Regions from separate parts of the Homo sapiens genome. Here region 2 is linked to region 1. Evidence: fine-mapped expression QTL. A gene starts in region 1. The other region holds a variant in brackets. All regions are shown on one strand. Distances are from middle to middle.

Region 1 (4,380 bases):
TGCGTGGCCAGTTCCTTCCTCAAGTGCTGTTGTTGCAGGGGCGAGACTGCAGAGGATTGGTGAGCACGGCGGACTTCAGCCACCACTGACACCGTGGCCTGTGGGCGGGGCCCCGGGGCCAACAGCTCCTGCTTTCTGAAGGGAAGGTGGGGGCTGTGGGGGCTGCAGGGGGTGGGTGTCACTCAGAGGGCAGCATGGCAGGGAGGGGACCTGTGGCAAGTTTTTGGATCAGAGGGGCAGCGACACAGGGCTAGAACCCTGAGGGTGAGCTGGGAATGGGCAGAGGAGGGCTCAGGGCCTCAGCTCTGCCTCCTGTCGCAGCTGCCCTGGCCAGGTGGCCCGGTGGGACGAGGCCTCCTGGTGGCAGACGCTGCCTCTCATGACTCTTGATGTGCCGAGAAGGTGTGGCCAGGGGCTGTCCTGGCTGGGGCTGGGATGCGGGACGGGGGCCAGGATCCCAGGGTGGAAAAGGGTGGATCTTAAAGTTCATGCCACATCCCCCAACCCAAGGCGGATTCTCTTTCTTGCTGCACCAGTCAGGGCCTGGGGAATGAACTGGCCACTCAGGGTCACGGGCCCACCATCCTCAGCTCCTCTCCCCATCTGTAAATGGAGACAGGGAGGAGTCATTGCCTGGGGCCACCGGAAGCCAGCAAGGCCGGGCCCCAGAGCCACTGCCCAAATGCAGGCTTCCAGGCCTTCTCCCAGACACTGCGGTGTGGGCGTCCGAGACCCAGAGAGGCAGCCTCATGCGCTGGGGCGGGGAGCCAGACGGAGGGTACCCAAGGCCTCCCGCACCAGCCTCATTGATGTGCTGTTCCCCACTGGGCTTGGTACACACAGTAGGTGCTCATTAAATGTGTGTTGAGTGAAACAGACAAATGCAAAGTGGCAGAGTGGGGGCTGCGAGGACAGGTACAGGAGCCCAGGGGCTGTAATCAGGGCCAGGCTGTGTGGTGCAAGGGCCCCGGAGAAGGAGTCATCAGCCTTGGGTCACCTCCTGCAGGCCAGGGTTCACGATGTGAGACAAGAGGCAGGATCACACCAGCCAACAGAGGACCACCCCATCAGACAGGCTGGGGACCACACCATCGAATAGGCCAGGGAACCACACCATCAGATAGATAGGCTGGGGACCACACCAACCACACCATCAGATAGGCTGAGGACCATGCCATCAGACAGGCTGGGGACCATGCCATCAGACAAGCCGGGGACCATGCCATCAGACAAGCCGGGGACGACGCCATCAGACAGGCTGGGGACCAAACCATCAGATAGATAGGTCGGGGACCACACCTTCAGATAGGCTGGGGACCACACCATCAAATAGACCAGGGACCAAGCCATCAGACAGGCCGGGGACCACGCCATCAGACAGGCTGGGGACCACACCTTCAGACAGGCTGGGGACCACACCATCAAATAGACCAGGGACCAAGCCATCAGACAGGCCGGGGACCACACCATCAGACAGGCTGGGGACCACACCATCAGACAGACCGGGGACCATGCCATCAGACAGGCCGGGGACCACGCCATCAGACAGGCCGGGGACCACGCCATCAGACAGACTGGGGACCACGCCATCAGACAGGCCGGGGACCATGCCATCAGACAGGCTGGGGACCACGCCATCAGGCAGGCTGGGGACCACGCCATCAGACATGCTGGGGACCACGCCATTAGATAGACTGGCCAGGGACCATGCCATCAGATAGGCTGGGGCAAAGCCATCAGACAGGTGGAGGTCCATGCCATGGGGCATGAGGTGGTGTCTGTCACCTGGTCCGGGAGCACAGTGTTGCCCATCCGTGCCACCTCCCTGAGGCCCTGGCAAGCATCATTCTCTAATGCAGACAGATGGCTGGGGCGCCAGCAGGAGCCAGACTGCCGCGGAGCAGGAACTGGGCAACTAAGGGTGATTTGGGCCGTAGAGAAGTGATTGATGTGGACAAATGGAGTCTGCAATGCAGGCCCCACGCCACCCTGGCTCCCTGTGCGAACCCAGGGCTCTGCTGCCCTGGCGGGGCTGACTCCATGGACGAGGTGGCTCATGTAGGGCTGGCTGGAAGTAATCATGTCACCCCCTGCAATCATGCCCCCAGGAGATTAGAATAGGACCCTGATCCCTCGTTTCTGTCCTATCCCCTCCTTTCCGTCCCATCTCCTCCTTTCTGCCTCATCTCCTCCTTCCTGCCTCATCTCCTCCTTCCTGCCTCATCTCCTTCCTGCCTCATCTCCTCCTTCCTGCCTCATCTCCTCCTTCCTGTCCCATTTCCTCCTTCCAGTCCCATCTCCTCCTTCCAGTCCTATCTCCTTCCTGCTCCCATCTCTTCCTTCCTGTCCCATTTCCTCCTTCCCGTTCCACCTCCCTGTTCCCATCTCCTCCTCCTGTCCCGCCCCCTCCTTCCTGTCCCGCCCCTCCTTCCTGTCCCACCCTCTCCTTCCTGTCCTGCCCCTCCTTCCTGTCCCGCCCCCTCCTTCCTGTCCCGCCCCTCCTTCCTGTCCCACCCCCTCCTTTCTGTACCTGTTGACCTCATCTGGGCTGCAGTTGGTGACTGCTCGAAGGGGTGGGAGGAACAGTATAAAGTCCTGTCCCCTTCCTGCCTTCAAGGGCACCCCTGAAGGACCATATCCACTGTGGACCCCCTTGGGATCAGCCGAGGTCTGTAGAGGTGACATTGCAGCCCAGCACCTCCCTCCTCCGCCCTGCCCTCCTCTGTCCTCCTTCCACAGGTGTGGCCAAGGGCACTGCCCAGTTGGCCTGTGACCCCCAGCTGAGGCTGCTTCCTGGGCAGCTGACTTCAAGTTTGTGACCTGAGCTCTCCAGGCCCCCGAGCGGCTGGTGCCTTGGCCCTGCAGTTCTGCGGCCAAGACTCCTCCTCTGGGATCTCGTCTTACCCTGCTGCGGGTGCCAGGGCTGCATGAAGCAAGGGCGAAAGTCCCCTTCGCCCGGGCGCTGCCCTCTGCCTGCTGTCCCCTGTGCTCCTGTTCCCCGTGGCTGCCCAGGGACAGGTGTGTGGGATGGAGGACGCGGGAGAGGCTGAGTCCTCCCCAGTGGACCCCCAGATGCAGACCCTGAGGCAAGGGAGAGTGAGAAAGTGAAGGAAAGAACACAGCTGGAAATGCAACCAAGAAGGAACCCCAGCCCGGACCACTGTGAGCAAGGAGAGCCGAGCCCCGGGGAGCCCTGAGACAGTGTGGGAGTGGAGGCCTGGGGCGCCTCCAGGCAAGGCAGCGGGATGTCTATGCCCCAAGCCCTGCCAGTCGTGGATGGAGACGCACACTTTAGTGCGGGCTCCAGAGACAGAGGGAGCCCCAGGCCGAGAGCTGTGGGTGCTGGGCAGGTGGGCATTGGCCAGCATTGCCCCCACTCATGGCGGGTCCACCTTAATTCGACGGGTGTGACACTCTCCTCACACATGTGCACATTCAAGAGGCAACTGTCTGTTTCTATAACTGGGTGCATTTCGGTCTGGAGCCGTCGAGCCGGGTGGTGGCCATGAATCCCAGGCAACTTGGGGGGCCCAATCCAGGGTTGCCTTTTGGGGGCCTTGGGGCGGCTAGTGCAGTTCCACATGCTGTTAAGGACCTTGAGATGGGAGATTATTCTGGATGGTCAGGGTGGGCACAGTTTAATCACAGCCCCTCTAAGAGGGACTGGGAGGGTCAGGGTCAGAGGAGGAGAGGGGACGACGGAAGGGAGAGAGAGGCTGGGAGATGCCGTGCAGCCAAGGAGGGCAGGAACCTCTAGAAACCACAAAAGGCGAGGACACAATCTCTCCCCTGAGGCAGAGACCCAGGGCTGCCCCGCACAGTCGCGCAGATCGTGTACTGCCCTGCTCCTGGGGCTCATTCACACAGGTTGCCATGGCTGTGGGGTCCCTGGGGCTGGGCTATCTGCCAACCTGGGGGACGCTGCACCCTGTTTTCTGTCCTGTCTACTCCAGCTTTTCACACTCTCTGTTGCCCTTGTCCTTGGGCATCTCAGTGACTCGAAGGAATTGGGTCTTGAGACACAGCCGAGCCTGTGAGCGCTGACCTGTGTAAAGAAGACACCAGAATGAGATGTCTCCACACACAGAGAGCTGCAGCCGATGCCGGCCGGTGACTTGGGACTTGGATGCTTAACAGGAGGCTCCCCCTCTCTTGGGAGGTGAGGATGGGGTTGGGAGCATGTGTCTCAGGGGCTGGCTTCACTCGCTCCTTAGCCCCAGCAGGTGCATCTCCCCCCTGCGAGGGCCTGGTTGCTGTAGTTCTTCTAGAAGGCCGCACTGAAGGGACCCTCTGATCCTCATGCCAGCTCTTAAGACATGCTCCACTCTTAAGACAGAGACAGGAGCTCCCGGGCTCGTGCACACCCTCCCTCTGCGCATG
Region 2 (4,380 bases), 360 kb after region 1:
ACTGAGACGGGAGGCTTGATCTGTTTGAGCCTCAGTTTCCCCATCTGGAGCGAGGTCTTCGTGGTGTGGTCAAGATTCCGTGGGCTGTCAGGAAGGTCTCAGTGTGTACGGAGTTCGGGAAACAGGGTCAGAACCACTGATGCTGGCCACGTGACCTGCTTCCGGCAGGCTCCATGCTGTCCCCACCTCTGGAGCTCAGCGTCCTGTTGGTCCCCTTCACCAGCAAAGACATCCCTCCCAGCCTCCCACCAGGAAAGCCCCAAGTCTCCCTAGTCCCAGGATCCCTCACCCACCCAACACAGAGCCGCCAACTGTCACCCCCACTCCCTCCGAGGGTGGCTGGAGGCCCCAAAGCCCAGGCGGGTCTGTGGACTGAGCCTCTGCAGCCCAGCATCCTGGTGCTCCGCCCTCCATGCAGCCCCACTAGCCCTGTCAGGGGCCCCTGGGGACGCTGCAGCCACCCCCGAACACAGGCCACACTCTGTCCCACACCCCTTGCTGCCCCACCAGGCTCGGCACTAATGCTTGATCACAGGTGCAAGGGCTCGGCAAGAGTTAGGACACCCTCCTTCCAAGTGGCTCCAGTCACCATCCCCACCCCGGTCCCCATCCCCACCCCGGTCCCCATCCCCACCCCGGGCCCCATCCCCACTCCGGGCCCCATCCCCACCCCAGTCCCCGTCCCCACCCCAGTCGCCATCCCCACCCCAGTCCCCGTCCCCACCCCAGGCCCCATGGCCTCTCTCGGGGTCCCAAGGCCTCTCTCGGGGTCCAAGGCCTGCCACCCTCAGTTAGAGGCACCCCAGCCCCACCCCCAAAGACGCCCACCACCTGACTTCCAGGGCCCCAGGGCAAGTGCCTCTTTCTGTGTTCAATGCACCCTCAAGCCTGGCTTGGGTGGTTTGGCCACGCTGGGATGGGCATGGGGCTGGGCGGCCACCATATTCCACCCGTCATGGGATGGGGTTAGGCGGTCCTGTTCGGGACGGTTCTGTAGAATGATGTTGCACACAGGACCCTCACGTGGGCGTCTCCAGGCTGACCTTTGAGAACCCAGATGCAGCCATGGCTGTTCCGCTCTGTGATCCACTTGGGCTGGGCTGGCCGTGGCGAGGCCTTGGGCATGGCCTCCAGCTGCGAGCCCGAAGTTGGATTTTGAGCAGAGCGGTGCACATCTGAGCAGAGACCAGAGCTTCCCAGGGATGGCCACCATGGAGAGTGGTCCTGGAAGAGATGGGGGGAGGCAGGGGGTTCAGGGAAGGTTGAGCAGGAGGCCAGGCAGGGAGGAGGCCGACACAGTTGTTCAGGTGACGCACCAGTGGTTCCACAGTAGGTTGGGTATGCACACACACAGCACACACACATGCACACTGGCTTGGGCACGCACACACAGAGCAAAAACAGATGCACACACATGGCACACACACATGCACACTGGCTCGGGTGTGCACACACAGCAAACACACATGCACACTGGCTCAGGCATGCACACACATGGCACACACCCGCACACTAGCTCGGGTATGCACACACATGGCACACACACATGCACACTGCCTATCATGCACACATGCCACACACATGCACACTGGCTTGAGCATGCACACACAGCACATACACATGCACACTGGCTCTGGCACACACACATGCACACTGCCTATCATGCACACATGCCACACACATGCACACTGGCTCAGGCGTGCACACACATGGCATACACACATGCACACTGACTTGGGTGTGCACACACATGCACACTGGCTATCACACACACACAGCACACACATGCACACTGACTTGGGCATGCACACACACGGCACACACACATGCACACTGGCAATCACGCATACACGGCACACACACGCACACTCACGCACACTGACTTGGGTGTGCACACACATGGCACACACACATGCACACTGGCTCAGGTGTGCACACACATGGGACACACACTGGCTCGGGCGTGCACACACATGGCACACACACACGCACACTGGCTATCATGCACACACACGGCACACACATGCACACTGGCTCGGGCGTGCACACACACGGCAAACACACACACTCCCCCACCCGACCGCGTGAAGCACAAGCCACCCGGTGAAGAAGTCTGAACTGCAGCGGTTTGTGTGCCACAAACACTGGCTTGCAGAGGCCCAGCCACTTGACCGGTATCCCAACCTCCCAGGCCTGGAGGCCAATCTGTGGGAGGAGGGGGAAGGGTCAGGGGAGGACAGACAGACAGTCACAGCGCCCCCAGGCTCACTCCGCCCAGCCCTGCCTGGGAGCTCTCCAGGCCACTGGGAATTTGGAAAGGTCTGGGAGGGTTTGACGATGAGTGCTCCAGCCCAGGTCCCCAGGCCCAGCCTGCAAAGGCCCCACGGCCCCTTAATTCTGGCCTTAGTCCGTGAGACCACAAGATACCCACTGCCTACCAAGGACCTCCTGAGACCTGTGGGTAGGGGAGGCAGGCAGGGAGGGAGGGGGCCTGTGACCTCTTCAGAGTGGCTCCTACCTCTTCCTGGAACCTTCCAGCATCTGCGTGTGGGAGCCGCTTCCGGGCAGAGGGGGCTGCTGTGGCTGTGTGTGTTTCCGTGTACCTGCAACTGCATGTGTAGCTGTGTCTCTATGTCTGCACAGCTTTGTTGTCAGCATGTGTCTGCGTATACCCATGTCTATGTGTCTCTGTGTGTTGTGTGTGGGCATCCCTGTCTGTGTACATATGTGTTGTATGTGTGTA[A/T]CTCTGGGTGTGTGCCTGTGTGTTGTGTGTATACATGCTGTGTGGTGTGTCTGTCTTTGTGCATGTGTGTTATGTGTGTACATGCTCTGTGTGTGTCTTTTGCATATATGTGCATGTGTGTTGTGTGCACATGCTATCTGTGTGTGTGTGTGTGTGTGTGTGTGTGTGTGTGTGTGTGTGTGCCTGTGGGACAGGATTGAAGCTGCCACGGCATTGGAGGGGGACAGAGATCCCAGGAGGGAACTGAGTACAGGGCTCTGGTGAGAGGGAAGGAGGTGCTGTGACAGTGGTGTTGGGGCCGGGGTGTGGACAGTGGCATGGTAGGGTCTGTGGGGCTCTTACTGGTGAGGTCTGACTCCCAGCTTCACAGCTGGGCAGGTGCCACCAGCACCATCCAGCTCTTGCCAGGCTTCCCTGTCCCTCCATTGAGGTGCCAGGGGAAGGGCTTATGTGGGGACAGGCCAGGCACTGATGGGCTGGATACCTGGGGAGAACGGGGTGGCTCAGAGGTGCCGGCACTCACCCCAGATGCTCCCTGGCCCCTCCAGCCCCTCCCGCACGGCAGCCAGCACCCTGCCCTCTGGCCCCCGGCCACATACGTGTGGGAGGAAGCCACACAATGTACTATCTCTGTGCCTGCCCGTGGGGTTCGGGAGCCTCCAGGCCACCTCCCATGAGTAGCCCCTACAGCATGGCATGGGGTCTGCTCCATACAGACACAAGGAGCCCCAATCCTCTCCTGGACTCCACAGCCCACAAGCCCTTCCTGAGCGGATCCCTGTCCCCTCTTCCTCCTCTTCAGGATGGACACAGAGGGGCAGTAGAGGCTGCAGGCGTCTCCACAACCCCAGCGCAGAGGGGCCCGGGCCAGGGCCACAGGGAGCCATGGAGAGCTTCATGGAGTCGCTGAACAGGCTGAAGGAGATCCACGAGAAGGAAGTCCTGGGTGAGGGGCCAGGGACAGATGCCAGGCTAGGGAGGGGTCTCCACAGCCCTCACCTAAGGGTCGGAGCAGGCCACTGTGCACCCATGATCACCTCCAATTCCCACCAAGTCAGGGAATGGACCCCGTCTTTTTGGCCCAGGCAGGGGAGTCCTGACCCAAGGCCCAGAGCTACAACGTGGCAGACACCCTGCCTGGGCCCGAGTGCTGACCTCAAGCGGGGATGTCCTCGAGCCACTCCCAGAGTGTGACCCCGAGGGGGAGGGGCACTTTCAAGGGTTGCCACCAACACCTCATGGCCACCTGCCACCCGCAGGCCCCATGCTGCCCATGCTTTGTTCTCCCGTGGGCCGGCCTCCAGCGTGGCAGAAAGAAGTACCCACCCTGGCCGGCCTGCTGAGCTCACCAGGGCAGAGACAGCCACTTCCAGAAACAGGAGCTTATGGCTCTCTGGACCCATCCAGAACATGTCAAGGCACTGAGCTGCAACTCTTCTCTTCCTTCTAGGACACGCCCCAGGCCCCACCCCTGTCCACTTCCCCCACGAGGGACAGGGCCGCAGCCCCCACACCACCCCCAGTCCAGTCCCAGGGCCAGCACCTCCCCGTGGTCTTTCCACTGAGCACCCACACCCACCTGGAGGTCCAAGGACCCGGCTGCCTCCTAGGCAACCCAGAGAGGTGGGGCTGCTGGG

Alleles and levels. Positions count from the first base shown, and alleles are read on the strand shown. Sizes are in standard deviations (SD) of each study's normalised expression.
For the expression in monocytes of the gene that starts at base 2,618 in region 1, A is the high allele of the variant in region 2 and T is the other (moderate effect, 0.43 SD a copy in Quach 2016).

Evidence for each region. PIP is the estimated chance that this variant, and not a neighbour inherited with it, causes the effect.
Region 2: its variant is fine-mapped to the expression of LINC00659 in monocytes (Quach 2016, PIP 0.95).

What each region holds. Positions count from the first base shown.
Region 1 is chr20:62,775,094-62,779,473 of GRCh38, reverse strand. LINC00659 (long intergenic non-protein coding RNA 659) reads left to right here and starts at 2,618. Exons shown (of 3, transcript NR_046225.1): 1 at 2,618-2,668; 2 at 4,088-4,159. RefSeq lists a silencer at 3,150-3,311.
Region 2 is chr20:62,418,896-62,423,275 of GRCh38, reverse strand. RBBP8NL (RBBP8 N-terminal like) reads left to right here. Exons shown (of 14, transcript NM_080833.3): 2 at 3,546-3,689. The coding sequence starts at 3,629. Among named protein-coding and RNA genes, the nearest start is that of RBBP8NL, 6.5 kb to the left of the region's middle. RefSeq lists an enhancer at 1-267. The variant A/T (reference allele first, on the strand shown) is at 2,744.